Regions from separate parts of the Homo sapiens genome. Here region 2 is linked to region 1. Evidence: fine-mapped QTL for protein levels in blood plasma. A gene starts in region 1. The other region holds a variant in brackets. All regions are shown on one strand. Distances are between the middles of the regions. Region 1 holds the start of RNASET2 (ribonuclease T2). Region 2 overlaps RNASET2 (ribonuclease T2).

What was found. PIP is the chance, under the fine-mapping model, that this variant and not a neighbour inherited with it causes the effect. Protein levels are from antibody-based Olink assays in UK Biobank. Linkage for the fine-mapping came from a reference panel and not from the study's own genotypes, which makes the PIPs less certain.
Region 2: its variant is fine-mapped to the plasma level of the RNASET2 protein (UK Biobank, PIP above 0.99). The variant lies in the coding sequence of RNASET2. If it changes the protein, the assay may bind it differently, which can mimic a change of level.

Annotation. Positions count from the first base shown.
Region 1 is chr6:166,952,502-166,960,801 of GRCh38, forward strand. RNASET2 (ribonuclease T2) reads right to left here and starts at 4,049. Exons shown (of 9, transcript NM_003730.6): 1 at 3,596-4,049; 2 at 1-47. The coding sequence starts at 3,681. RefSeq lists silencers at 3,815-4,574, 4,615-4,714, 4,985-5,034, an enhancer at 5,999-6,118 and a cis regulatory region at 6,799-7,085.
Region 2 is chr6:166,922,546-166,930,841 of GRCh38, forward strand. RNASET2 (ribonuclease T2) reads right to left here. Exons shown (of 9, transcript NM_003730.6): 9 at 1-7,246. The coding sequence ends at 7,043. Among named protein-coding and RNA genes, the nearest start is that of RPS6KA2-AS1, 23 kb to the left of the region's middle. The variant C/T (reference allele first, on the strand shown) is at 7,171.

The DNA.
Region 1 (8,300 bases):
CAGGCCAGTGCTGAACCATAATTAGTTTTTTCCACTCATGGTTGTCACTGTTAAAACATAAGAAACTTATTTTTCAAGAACTTTTTTTAAAGTTACAGAAAAAATTCATCCACCCATCCATCCCTTCAATCATTCATTCAGCACTGAGTGCTGTGGGAGGAGGAACACTGCCTGCCCTGCTGCTGCACACACTCCCGTGAGGAAGGCGGTACACCCCTACACTAAGAAGGCACGTGTGGTGGCGTCCAGTGCTGAGTGGCGGAGAACATGAATAGGATAAGGGGAGGAGGGGAGAGGAGGGGAAGCGGAGGCAGGGCAAGCTAGGAGTGCAGCCAGGGAGGGCCTCACTGAAGGGAAGCCACTGAGCCACGAAGCACCTTTCTCCTAAGGATGCTCAAGAGAAATGCAGACCCACGATCCCTCCCCTGCATTCGTGAAACCCATAAAAGCCTGAAACCTGGTAGTTTTTTGTAATTCATTTGGCAACAAAACATAACCTGAACTAGCATAACGCTATTTATCGTTACTACCCCAACTCAGTTTTTAGACTTCACTTGCTTCTCTGCAGAATTTGTGTCATTTGATTTTAGGGTGCTACTTCAGATGCCACCAGGACTGTTAACTTGAACACGGTATGTGCACTGCATCATGAATGTTATTCACGACATGGTATGCACACAGCACTGCATCACACGTGTTACCCAGAACCTGGGGCCACACTGGATCACAAACCTGAACACCGTGAAACTCATCTGACTCTAAGACTTCAAAGAAGCCACTGTGGAGCGGCAGCTTATTCATGGCAGTAGGCCTCTAGCCAGAACTGCAAGACTTAACGAGACTGAAGTAAAAAGAGCAGCTTGCAAAAAATGCACATGGAAAAAGCCAGCAGCAACACAGGATATAAGTCAAGCAGACACTTCAGGATAAATCAAATTTTAGAAGGGAAGATTCCAAGTAAGAAGATCAAGTTGTCACACATTAGCTTTTGTAAATAATTGAGTCCTGTTGAATTTGTATAGAATTTACAGTTAAGATGGTATGAAAACTTAGTTGTACATTGGAACTAATTATGCAAGCTCTCAGTATAAAAGGAAAAAAGGGTTCAAGCGTGGTGGCTCACACCTATAATCCCAGCACTTTGGGAGGCAGAGGCAGGAGGATTGCTTGAGCTCAGGAGTTCAAGACCAGCCTGGGCAACATGGTGAAACCCTGTCTCTACAAAAATTAGCCAGGTGTGGTGGCATGAACCTGTAGTCCCAGCTACTTGGAAGGCGCTGAGGCAAGAGGATAGCTTAAGCCCAGGAGGTGGAAGATGCAGTGAGCCCAGATCACATCACTGCACTCCAACCTGGGCTACACAGCCAGACCCTGTCTCAAAAAAAAAAAAAAAGGATGAGCTGCAGGGTGAGAATTGGAGCTGGTAAAGCATTTTTTACCCTTGGGTGAAAAACCTTATTTTACATAGTCGGAACCTGAGGCTGGAAAGCTTAGCAACACCCAGGAAGATGAGACTATCAATATGCTTACAACAAAACTACCAAGACTCAGACGTTTGTAACAAACTCTCCATCTAAAACCAGGCAGAGTGATGTGACTGCAGGAGACCCCCTCCCACACAGATGCCCCCCTCCCCTATTCACGGAGAAAGTAATGGAGAAGCTAAAGAAAGTCAAAGAAGAAAGAAAAATCACCAAGGTCTCAAAACCAGTTAGAACTTGGGAAAATGCCCGCTGACCTATGAAGCCCTCGTGGTCTGAATCAACCATGTTCTCGCAAATCTTGCCTGCTCAAGTTTGTCCGATCATATCAGTTGCATGAATTATGGGCTGGGGTGGGGGATCCACATATGACAGCCTGTTTTATGCTAATGTTTACTTCCAGCCAGACATCATTCCAAGTTACATTCTGTACCTTAACTGATTTCTCCTGAAGCCAACTCTGTGAGGCTGACTGTTACTATTTCTACTTTACAGATGAGGAAACTGGGGCATAGAGAGCTCAAAGGTCCCACACCTGGGTGTGAACTAGCAGTTTCCACTCAGCCAGCAAGGGCCAGCATGCCACAGACTTCCCCAGTGAGAGGCTCTGAACCTCATGGCCAATAAATAAGGACATAAATGTAGCTCTTTTTCAGAAAATACACTTTCCGGAACACTGAAATATAATGCTACATTTTAATGTACATGATTAAAAATATATACCTAAGGTGTTTAAAAAGTAAAACCCTGGCCGGGTGCAGTGGCTCACGCCTGTAATCCCAGCACTTTGGGAGGCCGAGGCGGGCGGATCACCTGAGGTCAGAAGTTCGAGACCAGCCTGGCTATTAAAAATACAAAAATTAGCCAGGCGTGGTGGTGTGCATCTGTAATCCCACCTACTCAGAGGCTGAGGCAGGAGAATCGCTTGAACCCGGGAGGTGGAGGTTGCAGTGAGCTGAGGTCACGCCACTGTACTCCAGCCTGAGTGACAGAGTAAGACTGTCTAAAAAAAAATAAATAAGTAAAACCCACCTTTTCCACACCTACTATGTAAGTAAGAAATCCTATTAACCCGATCATTACCCAAATAGAAAGAAATAATATGGTATTCAAATATTGGTATCTTCCACAGAATTAAAGTTGGAGTTCTTTGCAGCACCGCCTGTTTACCCCTAATTAATTTGGGCGGCTGCCACACACACACACGCACACACGCACGCACACACGCACGCACACACGCGCACACACGCACGCACGCACACACACGCACACACGCACACACACACACGCGCACACACGACACACACGCACAGACGCGCACACACGACACACACGCACACACACGCACGCACGCACACGCACACGCACGCACACACACACGCACACACAAACGCACACGCACACACACACACGCGCACACACACACGCGCACACACACACACACGCGGAGGGCGAGCCAAGGGAAGGGATTCAGAACAGGATACTCAAAAAGAGGAAGAACCGTCGTTTCACCACCCGCCGCAGTGAAAGCTGAAATTAAGTGTCCCCTCCACGACTTCTTCGACCTCTGAGAGAACTTCGAGTGCAGGAACAGTGCTCCACCAAGCCTGCCACCTGCTTTGTCGCGTCCTAGGCTGGGAGCAGTCTGTGGGATGAGTTTCCAGTCCAGCTCCAGGCTGGAGTGTACCCAGGACCTCACCCTACCCCCTACTCCTTCCCAGGGGTCACCCCGGGGAGTGTTCAGGGCTCCCCAACCCACTTCTTCCCAGGAGTCACCCCAGAGCGTGCCCAGGGCTCCCCCCAACCCACTCCTTCCCAGAGGTCACCCCGGGGCGTGCTCAGGACTCCCCTCATCGCACTCCTTCCCAGAGGTCACTTCTGAGTGTGCTAAGGGCTCCCCCCAACCCACTCCCTCCAGGGGTCACCCCGAGGCGTGCTCAACTTCCCAACTTCTTCCCAGGGGTCACCCCGGAGCGTGCTCGGCTCCCCCCGCCCTCCCCAGTCGCTGCCCGGGGCTCAGCGACCGCCGACCCCGAGAGCTGCAGCCTTCACCCAGTGGAAAGCTCTAGGGCCCGGCTCCCACGCTCCCCACTTTACCTCGCAAGGTAACTCACCGCAGGCGCTTGTCCGCACCGCCCAGGCAAAGCAACGCCAGGCAGAGGCAGCCCAGCAGGGCCCCGCGCAGGGCTGCAGGGCGCATGGTGCCGACCTGCGGAGAGAACGCTGCCAGCTGCCGCTCCGGCTCCCACTTCCCACCTGCTGCCCGAGGAAGACTTCCGGGAGAAACGCTGTCTCCGAGCCCCCGCGCCGCCGCGCTCCCTCCGCTGCAGCAGCGGCCACCGGGTGCGCCCGGAGCCCTGGGACGGCCTAAACCAGTATCTCGCGGGCCCCGCGCCGGGCTCCGGGAATGGCCGCAGCAGCCCTGGCGACCCGGGCCCCTCGGAGCTCCCCTTCAGGATCGTGCACCAAGCGCGCACGTCCCGGGCTCTGCTTCGCGACCCACAGCGACCCCAGCTCCTCCACGCTGCAGCCGCCGTCCGCCCACGACCACGGTCAGTCGCGTTGCTCCCAGCCCAGGGCGCCCTGCGGGCCTGCACCGGAGCAGAGAGCCACGCCCCCAGGACGGCACGCCCCCGCCGGTGGACACGCCCCCCAGAACGGCACGTCCCCGCCCGGCGTTCACGCCCCGCCCCGTGGTTGGCTCAGAGAGGCCGAGGCAGGAGCAGCTCCGCGGGCCTTGAGGGCGTGTCAGGCGGCTGTGTTCCTTCGCCACGCAGGCGCCCCGCGCCTTTTCCCGCAGCTCTGCGCCACTCCCACACTCCCGGGTCCGAGCTAACCTAGACCACCCGTGAGGACCGCCCTCGGGGGGACCGCCCGTGTCTGCGCCATCCCCCGCCAGCAAGTGGGCGTGCGGGCCCCAGGGCCACTCTACTCTCCAGGGACAGCCCCCAGCCCGACCCGCGCACCCTGCAGGCCCGCGGTCCGCACGCAGCACCCGCTTTCAAAAACTGCGCCCTGCAAGCTGCCCGGGAGCTCCTGACTGCAGATGGTGCTTGGCCGCCCAGGCTCCCCGCAGCCTCCCGCCACCTCGGCGCTCCACTGCGCAGCCCGAGGGACGGCTCCAGAATTAGGAGGGGACCTACTCGGGTCACTCTCCTGGAAACCTCTCCAGTCTCCCGGTGCTAGGTGCTGGGAGCACCAACATTCCTAGAAGGGCCTGGCCCTCACCCAGCCCTGGGCCTCACCTGCCCCTCCCCGCGGGCCCCAGGAGCCCGGAAGTCATCTCTGTGGGGGCAGCAAAGAGCCGCCTCGGGGCGCGACCTGGGAAGTCATCTTGTGAGGGATCCCCTCCCAGAGGGACGGGCCACCCCCCACGGATGAAGGGGACTTCATGTCAGCCCCACCTTGGCGTAGCCAGGGCCAGTCCCATAGGCCCGGTCTCCTCCCCCAACACCCTGGCCTTCCCAGCCCTTCAGAGGCACGGGTTCCCCTGCACCCGCGGCCCCGCCCACGGGCTGTGCACCCGGCATTGTCTCTGCAGATGTTTCTCCTCTTTCCCTTCCCTGTCCGCACACCCACAGCTAGTTAAGGCTATTCCTATTTACACGTCGAGTAAACTGCGCCTTCCTCGGGGTCCTCTGCCACTGGTAACTGTCTAAATAGCAGGTGGGCCTGTAGCCTGCTCTCCCACAGGCCTGGACCTTGCCTGCATGCATTACCATTCTTTGAAACAAAATATTTAAATGATTAATCTGTTTTTCCCACTAGACTGCAAGGCAAGGCCCATGTCTATTTTGCCCACCTTGAGTCCCTGCCACTGAGCACAGTGGATGGGGGACAGTCGGTGCTCAATAAAATGCCACCTGTGGAACAGATGGGGGGGGAAAATGGCTGACACCTCCTTAGCTCCTCCAGGACCTCCTACAGGTCATGGTGTTATTCTCGTTCTCCTTTTCCCTAACGACTTATTTGTTTCTTTCCGGCTCCTTTCATTCCTTCCTCTCAAGAATATAGGCACACGCCACAGTTCTTTTTCTCTTTTCTTTTAAGCTAAAAAAATAATTTTCTTAAAACAAAAGTGCTTCCCAGAATCCTCATTTTCCTTTAAATCACAGTCCGGTGTGTTTAAACAGCCCCTTGTCAAGGAGGGCTGTTGTGACCACTGCCAAATATAAAGCAAATCTGGACTCGGGGAGGAGTGGTGTTATGAGGACCATTATTGCAGGGGCCTGGGGGCCTTTTGTCCCTACTAAAAATACAAAAATTTGCTGGGCGGGGGTGGCACGCGACTGTAATCCTGTGGCAGGAGGAGCGGCAGACAAAACCTCTCAGACACCGAGCTATAGAAGGAAGGGCTTTATTCAGCTGGGAGCATCGGCAAGCTACTGCCTTAAAATCCGAGCTCCCCGAATGCACAATTTCTGTCCCTTTTAAGGGCTCACAACATTAAAGATTTCACATGAAAGGGTCGTGATTGATTTGAGCAAGCAAGGGGTACGTGACGGGCTGCATGCACTGGTGGTCAGAGAGAAACAGAACAGGGCAGGGAGTTTCACAATGTTCTTCTATACAATGTCTGGAATCTATGAATAACATCGGTCTCTAAGTCATGAGTTGATTTTTAACTACTAGGTTTAGGCCAGGCAGGCCCAGGTCCGGTTTTGGGCCTGGCGCCGGGCTGCCTGTCTTTGATTTCACTTCCTTGTTTTTTTCTTAAAACAGGTACTGAGTATAAAACAATATAAAACAATATGAGAGGGTCTCTCTCTTCCCTCAATCCCAGCTACTCTGGAGGCTGAGGCAGGAGAATCGCTTGAACCCAGGAGGCAGAGGTTGCAGTGAGCCGAGATCGCGCCACTGCACTCCAGCCTGGGCGACAGAGTGAGACTCGGTCAACAACAACAACAAAAAGAATGAATGAAAGAAAGAAGAAAGAGAGAAAAAGAAAGAGAGAGAAAGAATGAACTGGGAATGGAGAAGTGGGATGAGAACCTGCCTTCATAGGACATTAGATCAGAGAAGGTTGACCCCGTGGCCAGCCTGTTCTCAGGGGGGACTGACTCAGGCTAAGATGAGGCCAAAAGTCCTCAGCCTCGGGGGAAGAGAGGAGCCTCACCAAGTTTGCTTAACAAGTGTGTTATTTCTATTGACTGGCTCATCATTGATGAGGTGAAGAATGGGAATTGGAGGATCTGTGTCTGGCTTTGTCCTAGGTAATGGGTAGGGGGTGGAGTGAGGGGAGCATCCGTCACTTTTCCTTTTTTTTTTTTTTTTTTTGGAGACAGCGCCCAGCTGCATCACTTCTATCACTCTTACCTATGTTATGTGGGGAAGAAGGGGGTCTCTCGCAGCAAGCCACTTTCCACAACTCACAGAGAGGAGATTTTTATCAGATAAATTCAGCAGCGTCCTACCCAGCCTGAAGAAGCCACCCAGTCATTTCCTGTTGCACTTCCTTGTTTATTTTCGACACAGTTCTCCCCACCCCTGAGAATTCTTGTCACTTCCTCCTGTACTGCCCACTTCTACTCCCCCACCCCCACATCGGAAGCTAATGAGGAGCTTCAGGCCCCTTGCTGGCATGGGCCCCACCAAGACCCCATATCTCATTCCGTATTCACAATTTTACCTTCTTGTTCTTAAAGAAGGACATCCAAATGGAAAAGCTCTCAACCCCCCAAAACTTGGATGTGAACCTGGAGCATCTGTCATCTGTCTTGTTCACTACTTGTCCACCTACCAGGATCCTAAACGGAACCCTACGTAGGGAAGAGGCAGTGGCTGTAAAGGCTGGATTTGGGTCTGGAAGCCGCCCAGCTTTACGAAAACAAAGAGGGCTCCAGCATCAAGCAGGTGGGCAGGGGCCAGAGTGGGAATTACATTGACTCACACAACATAGTGTAAAAGGGTACAAACTATGAGGTTTAAAAGATGCTGCTGGCTTGTATAGAAACATGTCCTTAGGAGAGGGGAGGGGGACAGGATGGCAACAGCCATGTCTATGAACAGACATCCTTAAATCCTTGTTAATTCTGAAGAGACCAAGATACTTTCACCACACAACCTCTTCTTGGCATTAGCTCCAGGTTTCCTGTTTCCATGCCAGCTTTTGCTGGGTTATGCTACAATAATACACCGCCCCCAAATCTCAGTGTCTCACTTAAACGGAAGTTGATCATTTATCATTCATTTGCCCATATTCCATGCTGGCTATGCGTCAGATGCCACTGTGGTCCACGGTATTTTTCACTCTGGAACCCAGGCGGTAGGAACAGCCCATATCTGGTGCTGGCCATTCCAATGGCAGAGCAGTGGCACAACTACACAGTTTAGGATTCTCATGCTCTAAAGAGCTTTGTCACACTTGAAAGAATCTCACCTTAAAAACTCCTTTCCATCCTGAATTACTTATTTGCTGAGAAAGTGAGGCCAGCTGCTGGGTGTTTCCCTGCCCTTTCTCTTCTTTTTCTTTTTCTTTTTTTTTTTTTGAGACAGAGTCTCACTCTGTCAGCCAGGCTGGAGTGCAGTCAGTGGCACAATCTCGGCTCACAGCAACCTCCGTCTCCCAGGCTCAAACAATTCTCCTGCCCTAGCCTCCCGAGTAGCTGGGATTACAGGCGTGTGCCACCACGTCCGGCTAATTTTTGTGTTTTTAGTAGAGACGGAGTTTGACCATGTTGGTCAGGGTGTCCCAGCACCTCTGGCCTTGCCATGCCAGCCTGGCCACTGTGGTACACATTTTGTGGAACTCTTTTATTCTGAGCTGTGGCCATGACAAAAGGAGGACAGGAGAGAAACAGAAAAGACCAGTCATGTGTT
Region 2 (8,296 bases), 30 kb before region 1:
GTCTATTCTGCTCTAAAACATTCAGAGAAAAACCAATCGGGTGACATTTCAGTTTTGATTAGTGAGGTACCAAGCCCCTGAATATTGGGAGCATCTTGGTGACTGGCTGAATCTTGTACATGACTTTTGATGTATGTTGTTATCTTTGGGCCACTGCTGACTATCTTTTCTCAATTCAGGTTAAATATTTTCAAAACACCTACTATGCTCAAGTAGCTGTGTTCAGTACTGGGGCAGCACGAGCAGCCCACATCTCAGGGTGCAGTCCAAGACATATGGTCATCAAGACAGAAGAGCAGATGGTGACAGGTACCAACCACCAAAGCTGTACACGCCAGGTTCAATGTCTTTGCTGGTAAAAATGGGCCACTGTCACTCTGCAGACTTTTCTCAGTGTTAAAAGCGGGTAGGAAAAGGTGATTGTGTAATTCTTGCTCCCTCAAATAAAGGGAATGTAAATGCATAAGAATGCACAGGTCTGAAATGTGAAAAGCACGTCAGCATAAAGTCCATACAGCATTTAATGGATCTTAACTTTATCCATCTCAAACTTTCTTTTGGAGATGGAGTCTCACTCTGTTGCCCAGGCTGGAGGGTGGAGCGCAGTGGCGCAATCTCCACTCACTGCAACCTCCAGCCTCCCAGAGGGCTGGGATTACAGGCGTGAGCCACCAGGCCCGGCCTTTTTTTTTTTTTTTTTTTTTGAGACAGAGTCTTACTCTGTTGCCCAAGCTTGAGTACAGTCTCGGCTCACTGCAGCCTCCACCTCCTGGGTTCAAGCCATCCTCTCACCTCAGCCTCCTGAGTAGCTGGGATTGCAGACACCCGCCACCACACCCAGCTAATGTATTTTTAGTAGAGATAGGGTTTCGTCCTGTTGGCCAGGGTGGTCTTGAACGCTTGACCTCAAGTGATCCGCCCACCTCGGCCTCCCAAGGTGCTAGGATTACAGGTATAAGCCACTGCGCCTGGCCCATCTCAAACTTTCTAATAACTATCATCTGAGCCTAAAATGCTAATTCTGTCTTTTTTGTCTAAAATAAATGGAAGGCCCATTACAGTCACTCAGAAAAAAAAAATAGAATTCTTATCAGAAAAAAAATGACATAAAACTGCATTTCTCATCATCTGTCAGAGATTTTGCTTCAGATAAGAAAACCCTCACTACTGCCCCTTCTATGGGAAACGTAGCTCATCCCATAAGCAATGCAATGGACTTCTTTTCTATAGACGCCCAAATACTGACTTCATATCTGTGATTGTATCCTGGTAATTTCATTTCAGGAGCTAGAGCTTGTGAGGAAAAGTAGTATTTTAACTTCTGAGTCTTTTCCAGCCTTCTGCAGTGATAGATCTAGCCAATATAGTTGAATTCTGAAAATATTTTACATTACAATTCTCAGCTGCCTTAGGACCTGCATTAAATTATTTTTATTCCTGATCCAAAGTTCGCAGAAACAAAAAGTGAAAACAGGCGATCTGCATGTTTCCTCATCTGGGCGTGGTGAGAAGCCAACAGCAGGCACCTTCCACTGGGACCAGTGCTGCATTCTCTTTTTTTCTTTTTTTGAAACGGAGTCTTGCTCTGTCATCCAGACTGGAGTGCAATGGTGTGATTTCGGCTCACTGCAACCTCTGCCTCCTGGCTTCAAGTGATTCATTCTCCTGCCTCAGCCTCCCGAGTAGCTGGGACTACAGGTGCCCGCCACCATGCCCGGCCAATTTTTGTATTTTTAGTAGAGATGGAGTTTCACCATACTGTCCAGGCTGGTCTCGAACTCCTGACCTTGGGATCCGCCTGCCTTGGCCTCCCAAAGTGCTGGTATTACAGGCATGAGCCACCACGCCCGGCCTCTCTTTTCTATTTTATTCATTTATTCACTCCATCACTAGAGAACACTGGCTTAGAGCTGATGTGCCTCAGACACAGGTGCACTCATGGAGCACAGAAGCGAGTTGGACAAAGTCCGGGCCTTTGTAGTGTGACGTGGCCATTAGGGCCCACAGATCCTTCCCTGCAGTTGCTGTCTCCCTTTCTTCAGGTTCCGAGGAAGCCTTCCCTGGCCGCCTTCATAACTCTGACCTCCTCCCTCCCTCCAACCTACCAGCATCAAATGCACCAGCTATGCTCCTCTTTTCCCTTGCCGTCTGTTGCCCTGCACTTTGGGAGGCTGAGGCAGGTGGATCACCCGAGGTCGGGAGTTTGAGACCAGCGTGACCAACATGGAGAAAACCCATCTCTACTAAAAATACAAAATTAGCCGGGCATGGTGGCATATGCCACCACTCTTGGAGTGGGCCCAAGAGGAAAAGATCCCTGCTTATGGCCATGTCCCAGTGCCTAGAAGAGAGGCGGCTCATAGGAAGGGTTGAAAAAAGTGTGGAATGAATCAATAAACAGCTCTTGATTTAGTGGCAGGAGAAGTACAGGCCTCACCTCCACCGCGCAGGCCTCATCTACGCCATCCAGCCCTCACCCACAGTGTCCAGACCTCACTTCTCCCACCCAGGCCTCTACCCAGTCATCTAGGCATTCTCCCTGCCGTCTAGCCCAAAACCGGAACAGCACAGCCCTCACCTCTGCTGCCCAGGCCTCATCTACGCCATCCAGCCCTCACTCCTGCCGCCCAGCCCTCACTCCTGCCGCCCAGCCCTCACCTCTGCTGTCCAGGCATCACCCTTGCTGTCCAGCCGACACCTACGATGCGCAGTCCATGTCTCCGCTGCCCAGGCCTCATCTATGCCACTTAGCCCTCACCCATGCCATCTAGCCCTCACTCAAGCCACCCAGCTCTCACTTCCTCCATCCAGGCATCATTCCTGCCACCCAGGCCTCATCTACACTGCCTAGCCCTCACCTCCCCTGTCCAGCCCGTCCTCACCTACACTGCACAGCCCTCACCTCTGCCACCCAGGCCTCATCTATACTGCCCAGCCCTCACCTCCCCTGTCCAGCCCTCACCTCCCCGGTCCAGCCCTTGCCTCCCCCGTCCAGCCCTCACCTCCATCATGCAGCCACTGTCTCTGCTGTCCAGTCCTCACCTATGCCACATTGTCCGCATCTACACTGTACGGCCCTCCCCTGTGCCATCCAGCTGGCATCTTCTATGTAACACAACAAGAGCTGGAAGAGAAGAGGCCCTGGTCCCTGGGCGTGGAGGCGCAGAGCCACCCAGGACTGCAAAAGAACTCTTAACGGCCAACCATGGAACTGGGTGTTGATATCCCATGGAACTTGCTAAACTAGGTGAGCAGAAGAGCACTCCAGGCCACCCAAACTGCGCGGAGAATCCAGGCACAAGGAAGTGCTAAGCAGAGCCCTCATGGGCTGTGGGGAGTGGGTGGAGGCACTGCCAACAGGGCAGGAGGGATTGAGGGAATGTCCCTGAGCCGCCATACTGGGGAGGTGTGATCTGGGAGCAGAGAGCCATGGTTGGTTACGGAGAGTGGCACAAACACGGTGCCAGCGTCCAGCACTGACAGTCAGGTGGCGTGGCAGTCAATGCATGGCCCAGATGGGAGACTGAGGCTTGAACTAAGTCAGTAATGAGAAGGATAAGCTGAATATAATTCAGAATACTTTCACAATTTAGGCAAAATTTTTTTAAAAAGTTTCCAGTTCACTTTGAGGTTTCTACCTGGAATAAGCGGATGGTGATGTCATTCACCGAGATGGAGGCAAAAGTTTCGGTGGAAAGATAAGATACCTGGGCCAGGCGCGGTGGCTCACACCTATAATCCTAGCACTCTGGGAGGCTGAGGCAGGCAGATCACCTGAGGTCAGGAGTTCCAGACCAGCCTGGCCAACACAGTGAAACCCCAACTCTACTAAAAATACAAAAAATAGCCGGGCATGGTGGCGTGCCTAGTCCCAGCTACTCGGGAGGCTGAGGCAGAAGAATTGCTTGAACCCAGGAGACAGAGGTTGCAGTGAGCCGAGATCGCACCACTGCACTCCAGCCTGGGCGACAGAGTGAGACTCAGTCTCAAAAAAAAAAAAAAAGAAAAGAAAAGAAAAGATATCTAGTTCTGAATATGATACAATTGCTACTGTTAGTTATTCAAGCGCATAATGATCTCCCACTACTAGCTTGGAGAGAGGGATTGCTTTCCAGGTGACAAAGCATTGTCCCCTCCCAGGCCAAGAGAAATGCTCTTGGGTACAGCAATAGCCCTGCTGAGAAGGGGCTGGTCTGAAGGAGTTTCATGGGAACCTGGTTTTCTTGTCTCGCTTTTACCTATGGTGTCTTTTTCCACCATAAGTTCCACTCATCCCTGTGGCCTAGTCCACGGGTCCTCTTTTCCATGGTGCCGCAGAGATGCTCCAGGCAGACGCCTGCTCTGGCTGAGACCCGGGCCAGCTGCCCCTCCTGGCTGCTCTCCATCCTGAGATGCGCCTGCTCCTTTGTCCCCCTGGGAGACACTTGTACCCCCAGCTCTGATCCCAGAGCCTGGCCTGCTCCTCCTTCCACACATACGAGCCTGAGACCCCGCTCACATGGGAGGCATTTCTCAGTCACCTCCGCCCAGTTACAGCGAGAACCGTGTGGTCAGAGTTGCATCTTCCTGAGTTGAATCTGGAAAATGCACGACCTACTTGTTTAATGATGTAAAAACATGTGCTTGGATCTGATCTCCATCACTGAACCTTAAACGCAGAGTCTTCCCCTTCTGTCTCCTGCGGCTCATAAGTGCCTTATACTTACATGATCTGAGGCAGGTTATCAAACGCTCATGTTCTACCTGCTCCTGAGCTCTAGGCCAAAATAGGAATATTAAGAGAGCCAAGCATTTGCTTGTGCTCATGTTTTGAACCATCCAGCCCCTCACCAGTGCCTTCTTCCATTTAGCTGACGTGACAATGGCAGGAAACCAGCACTCCGCAGCCCATGCCTCCCACCAGGATGCTACCTTGTTGGCGTCCCCATCCGCTCTCAAATGCTCACACTCATATAATAAATACACGCTACTTAAAAAAAAGAATGGCTTCTTTAAAAACCGCAAAGGCCAGCCGACTGCAGACAGCCTCTGAAGAGCTGCTTTCCTTGACCCCCCAAGGCTATAAAATAAATGCAATTTGAATAGGAAGTCTGTTCAAATTCACCAGCTCCTCTGGGAATAATGAAGATAAAACCCAAGCCTTGATCCCTGTGTTCGCAAAATGACTCAAAAAAAAAAAAAAAAAAAAAAAGAATTGACATCATTTAAAGGACTCTGAGGCTTAAGAGTCCAACTCTAAAGTACACCCACTCCCTGAGGACGCAGAGCAAATGCAGGAAATCACGCCCTTCCAGGTGCAAAACAAATCAGATCTTGTCCCTCTCACAGGCATCAAAACACAAATCATCAGTTCCCGACAGAAACAAATCCTGCCCTGCCAAGCCAACAGAAAAACACTGGAGACAGAAATGAGCTCAGAGAAGGGCCGAGGGACAATGACAAGGTGGGGACCCTGGACCCTTGGGCTCCGCTAGCCTTCCCCACAGCTTGCAGAAGAGGGCTCAGCTCCTCCATTACAGAAGAGACAAAATACAGGGACTGCTTCCATCAAATCCCCCATCATCTCACTCTGTCTGTCTGCAGAAGCTGTCAGGCCTGGCTGGGTGCTGCCTGTCTCAGGCTCTTACTGCAGAGCTTGTTTCCAGAGGGCCAGAGGCCGTCCTGTGTCTCCTTTAATGCCTGCGGGGGACGCAGAGGCCACTGAGTCTAGGATCAGGACTGCGACACCTACTTTCTCACCGTCCCATCTGCCTGGTAAACCTTTGTCTCTCTCTGAACATTCTGCATTTCAGACTGTCTTGTAGACACCATGAAGTGAGGTTTTGGTTTGAGCCAATTTGAAAATCTCTTCTTTAAATGGGCGAGTAAAGCCGAATATTCACAGGCATTGATACAGCTGTTTTTTTTTTTTTTGTAAATTATGCTGACAATATGGTTATTCTAAGGATTAAATATTTCACGTGTTGAACACAATGCCTGGCACATAGTAAGTTCTATTTTAAATGTATATTGAATAAAACATAAATAGGACGTTAATGTGATTAAGACAAACAGAGAAAAGGATTTAAAGAGAGAAGAGGCCAGGAGACGCGGGAGAAGACAATGCTAACAGGTTGTCTTAACAACACATGGAAAGCTCCTCACTGCACAGCCCCCAGATGCCTCACTCCACGAGTGAAATCCCTGCACGGCAGGCCGAGAGCGTGGGTGCAGCAGTCTGCCTGACGTGAGAGCCATGTCATCACATATCTAGAAGGTAAGGGTACCTCCGGTTCTGGAACACACAATGTAGGCACATTTCGCTGGGGGCTCCATGTACATTTCTAAATAGATACCAGTGCAGGGACCTGGCTACCCTCTGATAAGAAGGAAGTGAGGCCTGACAGAAACTGACCTTCCAGTAACCTGGAAGAGACTGCTCTGACGGAGACAGGAGATGGCTGCTCTGTGAATACACCCAAATCTCCTAGGGCAGGAGGGGCAAAGTCACCGTTCTAGGACACACCTGTGACCACACCAGGCCTCCAACAACGGAGCAGCTGGCTAAGGAACGATGTCCTGGGGCTCTGGTCACATGGAACAGACCCAGTCTGAGCTAGAGACACCCCCCAGGCCCACCAGGCATCAGCGTGGGCTCCTGCCATGCGTGGAGCTCTTCGTCTTGACAGGGTCCCTGCGCCAAGAAGGCAACAGGCTCCGAGGGGAAAACTCGAGCAAGAGAGTCCCCTGAATCGGTGCCATCTGTCTAAATTCCAAGTATGCCTGCCTGATCTACCAGGGCACTGAAGAGTTTAATAGAGAAAAAAAAAAACAATCTGTGAGCTTTATCCCAAGCACAAAACAGCCACTCAGGCGTGGGAGAGCTCCTTTCTCCCCGTGTACGCCACATGCACTCACTCTACAGGGACCACAACATCCAATTCACAGGCATGGAGGGGAAACAGCAAAATAAACAGACTTCACTTTGGAGTTGTTTTTTAGAAAGCTGCAGTTTGTGAATTTCTCTTGCTTTTTAAAACAGAATATTTCCAAAACTTGGGCATCAATGCTTGGTCTTTTTAGGTGGGGGATAGAAGACTGGGCCATCTTCACAGACTCTCAGACCCCGGCTCTCGGCGGCCCCATTTGCCAGCCAGACTTCCTGCTTGGGGGACGGCTGCTCCCCCGGCT[C/T]GGTGCAGTTTTGCAGCTGCTGGTCTTGCTTAGTGAGGCACAGTTCTATCTGACCAATTGTCTGTACTTCCTCATCCTAAAAGTAAACAATGAAAGACGCTTTAGAATTCAGATCTTGGATTATCATCAAGGTCTTAAGATCATGAACTTTTAGAACTTTTAGAAGATAACAAAAGCAGAGGCTCCACACCACAGGTTCTAGGTTCCAAGAACGGACCCCTTCATTGAGCAGAAGGCTGCTGTGCACTAAATTGGAAGGAGTGGCCCCAGGTGACTCGCCTGTGGGCAGTGGAGCTGGGCTTGGGGGTTGGATCCCCTGGTCACCACCAGAGGCCAGCCTGGTGCCCTGGTGAAAAGCCTCTGCTTTTATGTTAGAGAAAATTAACAAAGTTACACACAGATACAACAGCACTCAACATATCTATCAAGATATTAGGAGAAGAAATGGCTTTTGTAGGCCAAAAGGGCAACAGTACCCTATTGCTAAAAGAACAGGTATATTCTTGTTAAAGATAAGCAAGAAGACAAACCCTGTCCTAGCATGCTGTCAAGAAACCATGCTTGCTCACACACAGCACATGCTCACACAGACACACATGCATGCTCACATACACAGATGTGCAGGCCTGTGCACACATGCAGAACATGCCCATATGTGCACACATACACACAGTACATGAACATGTTCATATGCACATTCACACAGAGGCACAGGCCCATGCACACACACAGCACATACCCACATGCATGTACACACACACACACACGCACATGCCCACACAGCACGTTCACATGCATGCACACATTCACACATGCACACACATGCCCACATGCATGTTCACACAGAGAACATGCACACACATGCACACACACAGCACATGCACACATGCATGTACATGCACACACAGCACATGCCCACATAATGTACACACTTGCACACACAGCACATGCGCACATGTATACTCATGCGCATACAGCACATGCACACATGCATGTACATGCACACACAGCACATGCCCACATAATGTACACACATGCACACACAGGACATGCACACACATGCACACATAGCACATGCCCACATGCATGTACACACACATGCACACATAGCACATGCCCACATGCA